2 linked regions of the Homo sapiens genome follow. The protein of the gene in region 2 interacts with the protein of the main gene of each other region in a pairwise test. Each region holds a gene or a part of one and is shown on either strand. Other genes may lie near its edges. The genes, in order: PRDM5 and VIPR1.

Region 1 (3,919 bases), on a different chromosome or scaffold from region 2:
TTTACACATGCTCCATTTATATACACGCAAACAAATGTCAATATCAATGGTAAAATTTTAGGATTTTAAAGAGGCACATTTCCTCCTACCTACCCACTTCCACATATTCATTACTCTAAGATGAGTTTTCATAAGCAACATTTAGATTTGTGAAGGAAAAAAATGAATATTTCTAGTACTTATCCTCTTTCCTTTCATGCTTTTGTTTGAGAAAGGAAGCAGCACATAAAATCTAAAACAGAAACTAAGGCTGTAAGACCTTCTGTAATACATGTTCACACTCATGCATGAGTTGACTGTAATAGGTCAGAAGATATTTGAGCAAAGTAATGCACTTACATGTATATGCACTGCATATAAGTGATACTCTTCAGACACACACACACAGACACACACACTCATGTTTCTTGAAAATAACATGTTAACTATACTATGTAACCCCAAGAATTTATCACCAAGAATACTTCCATGGTGCAACTGCTGATTATAATTTACCAATAAATGCCTCTATATAGCCAACAACACACCATGAAAAGGAAAACAAAAGCCAGTTATTGTGAAACAAAGGCAAATTAAAGATACACAAACATCTTGAGTGTTAATATACTAAGAAGACAGTTATTATAAAAGGGTATCTGAACCCACCTACATTATTGAACGTCTCTTAAATTTACTTAGCCAATTTCTAAGTCTCAATTACTTAGACTTTATAGGCACCTAAGGGTCTGGTCTTTTCTCAAGAAAATACCCCAGCCAAAATCTTTCACAGCAGGAAACAGAAGACATTTCAAAGTAGGTACCTGTACTTCAGCTTGTCTGTAAGACTTTTCCTTATGATTATCTATGCTTTCAATTGATCAATCATGCCTAAAATAGTGTCTTTTTTTGGTTATTACTAAGTAATTTAAAAGTTTTAGCAAGCAAATGCTAATATATCTGAAACTACCCATGAATACTTGTCTTTTGGATAAAAATTTACAGCATACAAATAGTCTACTAAGGACTTGTTTTGGTTTCAGTCCTCTGAAAGGAGAGAGTGGTGTACCACTCTCTGGTGTAGGTCCTTCTACACCATTTTCTAAAGATTTCCATGTCTATAAACCTTCAGCAGGATAAAGCCCAGCACCTCTTGCCTGTCTGTTTACTCCACAGCATAGCGACACCACAGTTTTCAGGGTAATTTCCCCAGCAGCCATGTGAACTGTGACTCACTGAGATTACACAAAATTGGAATTTGGACTCCTTTCAAGTTTTACATTCATCACATAATCGGGATATAAAGCATCCCATATAGAGAAAGCAGCATTCAAAGAAATATACAGGATGTGCTTAAATAATACACACTATCAAATTTTACAGCTGTCTTTTTATATTCAAATGATATTAAACACACTATCATATTAAAATGAAAACACTTTAGATCTAAAAATATATTGTTGAAACAAATGATATAGTGAGAAACAAGACCAAAATTTATTTTTATAAAATACAGTCTATAATTTCAGATTCAAAATACTACATATAACTATACTTAAATATCTTCTAAACTATAATTTTAGGATTTATGTTTTTAAAAGTTATCTCTTCTGAGTTTCAAATTTAGTATTTTACAACATTCAAATGTCTACATTGAATCTTTATGTTTCTTTTTAAAACTGGAACTGGGCATGAATATAATTCTAAAATGAGATTCCTGAAGTCAAAGAACTGTGTCTCAGATAACCTTTCTCCTTAACTCATTAGAACCAAATAACTTCCTTAAAACTATACTTCCTTTCTTTTGACTGGGCTTCAGTTAGAGAGGTTCATGAGTTGGGCTTCATTTTAACGTTTTTCTGGTTTTTGGATATTCCTCCAGGTTATTTTGACATCACTATTACATTGTATCATATCATCTCTCCAAACAAGCTGTTCATTGTATGTTGCTGTCAAGTATTTTGCTGAAATATAACCTAAAGGAAGAAATTATGCTTCTTGCTTCAATTTCCCTTAAGCATCAGTGACAGTTTCAATCATAACAATTGCCAAGTTTGTACTTTGTATTCTGGATTCCTAATTATATGGGATGATTGAAGGTAATTCAAAAGTGTTTCAGAATTACCTACTGCCAAGATTCTGGAAAATGTCTTTTGCAAAATGGAATGTTAATGTTCTGAGGACTGTATCTGCACTAACATGTTCTGTGCACTTTTATGGAAGGAGAGGGGAAAGGGCTATGTTCATCCTAACAAATGTGGAGATGCCACTATTGTTCTGCCACTCTGTTGCCAAATACAGAGAATCTATTTGGTTTCTATTTTTAATTATATATATTGGTATACTGTTAATTTCTAAAGCTAAATGGTCTAAATTCAAGAGGGGTAGCCTGCTGAATATTTAAATGTGATGGTCATTTTTGTGTAGAACTTATAAAAGTATTCCAGACCATGAATGTCTGCATCTGAATGATGAGAATAAATAATGTTTCCTAAGAATCCTCTAAAATGAGCAATATTTTAATAGATGTTTTAGTTATCAAATATCTATTTTAAACTCATTTGTTGCACAGAGCTATTAGATAAGCTCAGCTCTTGGTTTGTCTTATAAAATAGCAACTATTTATTTTCCTATCAAACTTGAGACTTTGATAACTTATTCTTATCCTCATCTGCAAAGAAATAGTTGGATATCTTGATTTATTTCTATTTAAATTGGTAAAACCAGCTGCAACAACTGGCATTTGCAAGTGAGTGCACACACACAGACACATACAGACACACAGACACACAGACACACAAAGAATAACAATAAAATAAAAAGGCCTATTAGGGAAGTATATTATAAACTTCATTACAGAGGGATGGCCAAGAAAGAGAGCCATGACTCCTTTCTCCATTTTTATAAGACAGAGCACAAGTTGCATTTTGCAAGGCTATGGAGTTGTATTTTTTTTCCATTTATACCATTTCTTGTTAAAAGTAAGACTTTTTTTTGGTTGCATATGCATCTACAGACTCTAAATGTAGGCAAATAAGAACTATGAGACCAGTAAGTCACTTTTGGCTACTTCTGTTATGCTGATCAGGTGATAAAAATCTGGGATTCATATTAGGAGCCCTTCTGAATAGTTTAATTCCTTTACAGCCCCTATTAGCTGTCAGCTACACCATGGATATTGTCCATGTGCACTTTGAGGTAGTCATTCCTTGTAAACTTCTTATGGCAAAACTGGCATTCTGCCAGGGGACGATTGGGATTATGAGTCATCTTGTGTCGAATCAGCATTTTCTTCAGGCTAAAAGCCAAATCACAAACCTAGAAAAGACCCAAAGACCAACCATATTATACTGAAATAAACAAAATTTATAAACAAAATTTAACACTCACACTATTGGCAAAGAAAATTAATAAGTTACTGCATTTAATCGGTGTCCTTTGTACCCGAGTCACCCTTCCCTTTTCCCAGCTGCTGGATTTAAACATTTCCAGTGAAACAACTCCCTGGCAACAATACCTTTCTTATCCTAATGGAATGTATTTGCCATTTCATATTAAACTATTTAAGCAAAATGCTTTACGGTCTAGATGGCATCTCTCTCTATAACATAAATGGCATAAGACATTTCTCAGCAGTGATCCCTTCAGTTTAGTACCACTTGTGAAATAAAAAGCTAATGCTGTTTTAAGTATCATAAGCAGAAATTTATTACACACTATTTCTTTTTTCTATTTCTTATTATATACACTTTGTTTAACTAAGGAAGGTAACAAGTTTATTTCATATGAGCTCTGCCACATTCCCACCTGGCTCAACATGCATTAAACAGCCCCATAACTAAAAATATTAACACAGAAAATGCAAGGCACAACTGTCCAAGTTACCAAAAAAAATGGAGTTTAAAGTTTGATGTTATTCAGAAAAATTCCACTGACATGAAAC
Region 2 (3,919 bases):
CCCTTATCCTCTCCTTTGCCGATGGGACCTTATTTCCCCCAACTTACAATGGTTCAAAAGGGCCTGAATCTGAGGCAAACAGAGCTGGCCATGGTCAGGGCCAGGTCTGTGTGGTGAGACAGAAAGGAAACAGTTGTCAGCAGGCAAAAGGGGTGGGGGCAGTTGGAGATGAAGCTCCTCAAGGAGAAGCTGTCAGCTCCCACTCTACACCTCCCCATAAGCCTTTGATTTAAAGAAAGCCTCCATCTGTTAGCCTCCGGTGTGTGGGATAGTTTTGCAGCCGAAGAGGGGTGGGCATTGCTCAGGATCTTGGCATGGCTGAGAACCAGGTCCAGGAAGGAGTGGGAGGGGCAAGGCCAGCTCCTCTGCCCCCAGCTTGCTGTGGGACCTCAGGCCTTGGGCTAGACTTCCTTGGACTGACTGCTAAGGCAGGAGAGACAGAGTCAGAGACCCTCCCTATCCACACCCCACCTCTCCTAGCCAGGGAGCAATGGGTTCACACTGCCTGGATCAGCTATGAGGTCAGGTGGCTGGGAGGCCTGAACCAGGAAGAGCTCTGGGCCATGGGAGGCGGGTGAGCATTTAGAATGAATGCTGACCCTACTGAGCACACAAAGCTGTGAAGAAGGAGCTGGTCCTTCAGAGCACGCTGGGAGTATATGCACTGGTGTGGGGAGGTAGGAGGAGGGGGATGCAACCCCAGAGAAGGTGGCAACTTCTGGAGAAGCAGACACAGCAGAAAAAACACAGATAGAGGGCGATACTGATTAATTTTGGGTTGTCCCTGGTGATCAGGTATGAACTTGGGTCCCCATCACCCTCCCAAGTGGCCCTGGGCATATGTGGTCAGCACCCAGTTAGAAAGACTTGTTTCCTAGTACGTCTTCTCTCATGGTCTCTCATGGATGCACTATACTTCATAGTACCCAAAACACTTCCAAGTTCATAGTGGGCCTCTGTTTCTATAATTTGACTATGTCGAGCATACACTTACTGCATTATACAAATTGGAAAAACTGAGACCAGGAGAGGAGGAACCAGAATCTCTTGTTGCCTAAGAGATTTTCTACTGCTCTTGATGGCTGAGAGCATCCTCTACTGCAATGATGAGGTAAGCCTCTCCTAGACCAGGGGGCCCAGGCAACAGAACTCCCAATAGTGGATTTCAGCTAACATGTCCCTGTTAGCATCATTCTCACTGGCCTCTCCTTTACCTCTTACCCTCTCTCCTCCAGAAGGGTGAGAATAGAGGGGGTTTCTTTCTCTCTCATGCTTCCCTCCAGGCCAGGAGGGCTGGGGGCAGAAGGGCAGAGGCACTGCAGCTGTGGAACAGGAGCAGACAAGGGCATAATATTCAGAGGAACCTACAGTCCATCCTCATACTTCCTGGTCATTGTCCCCATCTTCTGTGCCTCCAGCTGCCCCCATGCCACACCCTATCATATCCACATGTGTGGACACACATACCCATGGCCTGTCCCTCCCCTGTCTCCAGAAGGCTAGCCAGGTCCACACTCCTGCTGATCCCCCTGTTTGGAGTACACTACATCATGTTCGCCTTCTTTCCGGACAATTTTAAGCCTGAAGTGAAGATGGTCTTTGAGCTCGTCGTGGGGTCTTTCCAGGTATGGGCTGTTGACTTAAGGCTGCATTCTTCCCTGGCTTTTAAGGGAATTCAACCTGGAGTCTTGGCCCTTGCCACTGGATTCCAACCTTTTTACTGTAATAAGTATTAGATAAGCACCTACTTTGTGCTTAGCTCTTTCCTTAACCAGGGGAACACAGGGGCTGGAGCCAGGGGTGGGGCAGGGCTGGGGGCTTCTGGTCTGTCTACCTCACCTCTCCTGTCATCTTCCTTCTCAGGGTTTTGTGGTGGCTATCCTCTACTGCTTCCTCAATGGTGAGGTAAGCCCCTCCCAGTCCTTGGGGCTTAGGCAATGGAACTCCCAGGACCAGGGTCCGGAAACATTGGTGGGATATGTGCAGAGCAAGGACGGGTTAAACCTTGCTGCTCCAAGTATGGTCCTCAAACTAGTAGCACTGGTGTCACCTAGGCCCTTGTTAAAAATGCGCATCTCTGGGACCACCCCAGACCTGCTGGCTTAGAATCTGCATTTTAATAATTATTTTAAAAAACAAACAAACAGCTTTTTACTAAACCCCAGGGGGATTCCTGTGCACAACAGAGTTTGAGAAACACCTAGTTAAGTGGCTGTGTGCAGTGAGTGGGGAGGGATGAGGGCTTCCAATGAAGGTTGAGTTGCTGTGGAGCTCTGGTTACATTGCACAAAAAACCCACTCAAGTGAGCTGGAGACCCAGGATGGGAAGAATTGGAGTACAGTCACCCCTAGGCAGCATCCCTCCCTCTCCCTGGACTGTATTCTAGGATCCTCTCTGCCTCTTACCTCCTGCCATTCCAAGGCCTCCTTCTGAACCTGGCCTCAACCCAGTCCCAAGTTTGCACCGCCCGAGGCAGCATAGGGGTCCCTCCATTTTGATTTCCTAAAGAGAATAAGACTGGCTAGTTCAGAACCCTAAGTCCAGGGCAGCCCAATCAGCAGTGGAAGAGGCTCCACAGCAGTGGGCCTGACCACCTTCCCCTCTCCTAGGTGCAGGCGGAGCTGAGGCGGAAGTGGCGGCGCTGGCACCTGCAGGGCGTCCTGGGCTGGAACCCCAAATACCGGCACCCGTCGGGAGGCAGCAACGGCGCCACGTGCAGCACGCAGGTTTCCATGCTGACCCGCGTCAGCCCAGGTGCCCGCCGCTCCTCCAGCTTCCAAGCCGAAGTCTCCCTGGTCTGACCACCAGGATCCCAGGGGCCCAAGGCGGCCCCTCCCGCCCCTTCCCACTCACCCCGGCAGACGCCGGGGACAGAGGCCTGCCCGGGCGCGGCCAGCCCCGGCCCTGGGCTCGGAGGCTGCCCCCGGCCCCCTGGTCTCTGGTCCGGACACTCCTAGAGAACGCAGCCCTAGAGCCTGCCTGGAGCGTTTCTAGCAAGTGAGAGAGATGGGAGCTCCTCTCCTGGAGGATTGCAGGTGGAACTCAGTCATTAGACTCCTCCTCCAAAGGCCCCCTACGCCAATCAAGGGCAAAAAGTCTACATACTTTCATCCTGACTCTGCCCCCTGCTGGCTCTTCTGCCCAATTGGAGGAAAGCAACCGGTGGATCCTCAAACAACACTGGTGTGACCTGAGGGCAGAAAGGTTCTGCCCGGGAAGGTCACCAGCACCAACACCACGGTAGTGCCTGAAATTTCACCATTGCTGTCAAGTTCCTTTGGGTTAAGCATTACCACTCAGGCATTTGACTGAAGATGCAGCTCACTACCCTATTCTCTCTTTACGCTTAGTTATCAGCTTTTTAAAGTGGGTTATTCTGGAGTTTTTGTTTGGAGAGCACACCTATCTTAGTGGTTCCCCACCGAAGTGGACTGGCCCCTGGGTCAGTCTGGTGGGAGGACGGTGCAACCCAAGGACTGAGGGACTCTGAAGCCTCTGGGAAATGAGAAGGCAGCCACCAGCGAATGCTAGGTCTCGGACTAAGCCTACCTGCTCTCCAAGTCTCAGTGGCTTCATCTGTCAAGTGGGATCTGTCACACCAGCCATACTTATCTCTCTGTGCTGTGGAAGCAACAGGAATCAAGAGCTGCCCTCCTTGTCCACCCACCTATGTGCCAACTGTTGTAACTAGGCTCAGAGATGTGCACCCATGGGCTCTGACAGAAAGCAGATACCTCACCCTGCTACACATACAGGATTTGAACTCAGATCTGTCTGATAGGAATGTGAAAGCACGGACTCTTACTGCTAACTTTTGTGTATCGTAACCAGCCAGATCCTCTTGGTTATTTGTTTACCACTTGTATTATTAATGCCATTATCCCTGAATCCCCCTTGCCACCCCACCCTCCCTGGAGT

The links.
Region 1: the proteins of VIPR1 (region 2) and PRDM5 interact in binary tests that used the Homo sapiens proteins (3 or more experiments, as listed by UniProt).

Annotation. Positions count from the first base shown.
Region 1 is NC_000004.12:120,691,982-120,695,900, forward strand, and holds part of PRDM5 (PR domain zinc finger protein 5), read right to left. Parts: intron 3,295-3,919; coding exon 3,130-3,294; 3' UTR 1-3,129. UniProt on the Homo sapiens protein: Sequence-specific DNA-binding transcription factor. Represses transcription at least in part by recruitment of the histone methyltransferase EHMT2/G9A and histone deacetylases such as HDAC1.
Region 2 is NC_000003.12:42,533,480-42,537,398, forward strand, and holds part of VIPR1 (vasoactive intestinal polypeptide receptor 1 isoform 1 precursor), read left to right. Parts: intron 1-1,495; coding exon 1,496-1,625; intron 1,626-1,863; coding exon 1,864-1,905; intron 1,906-2,610; coding exon 2,611-2,802; 3' UTR 2,803-3,919. UniProt on the Homo sapiens protein: G protein-coupled receptor activated by the neuropeptides vasoactive intestinal peptide (VIP) and pituitary adenylate cyclase-activating polypeptide (ADCYAP1/PACAP).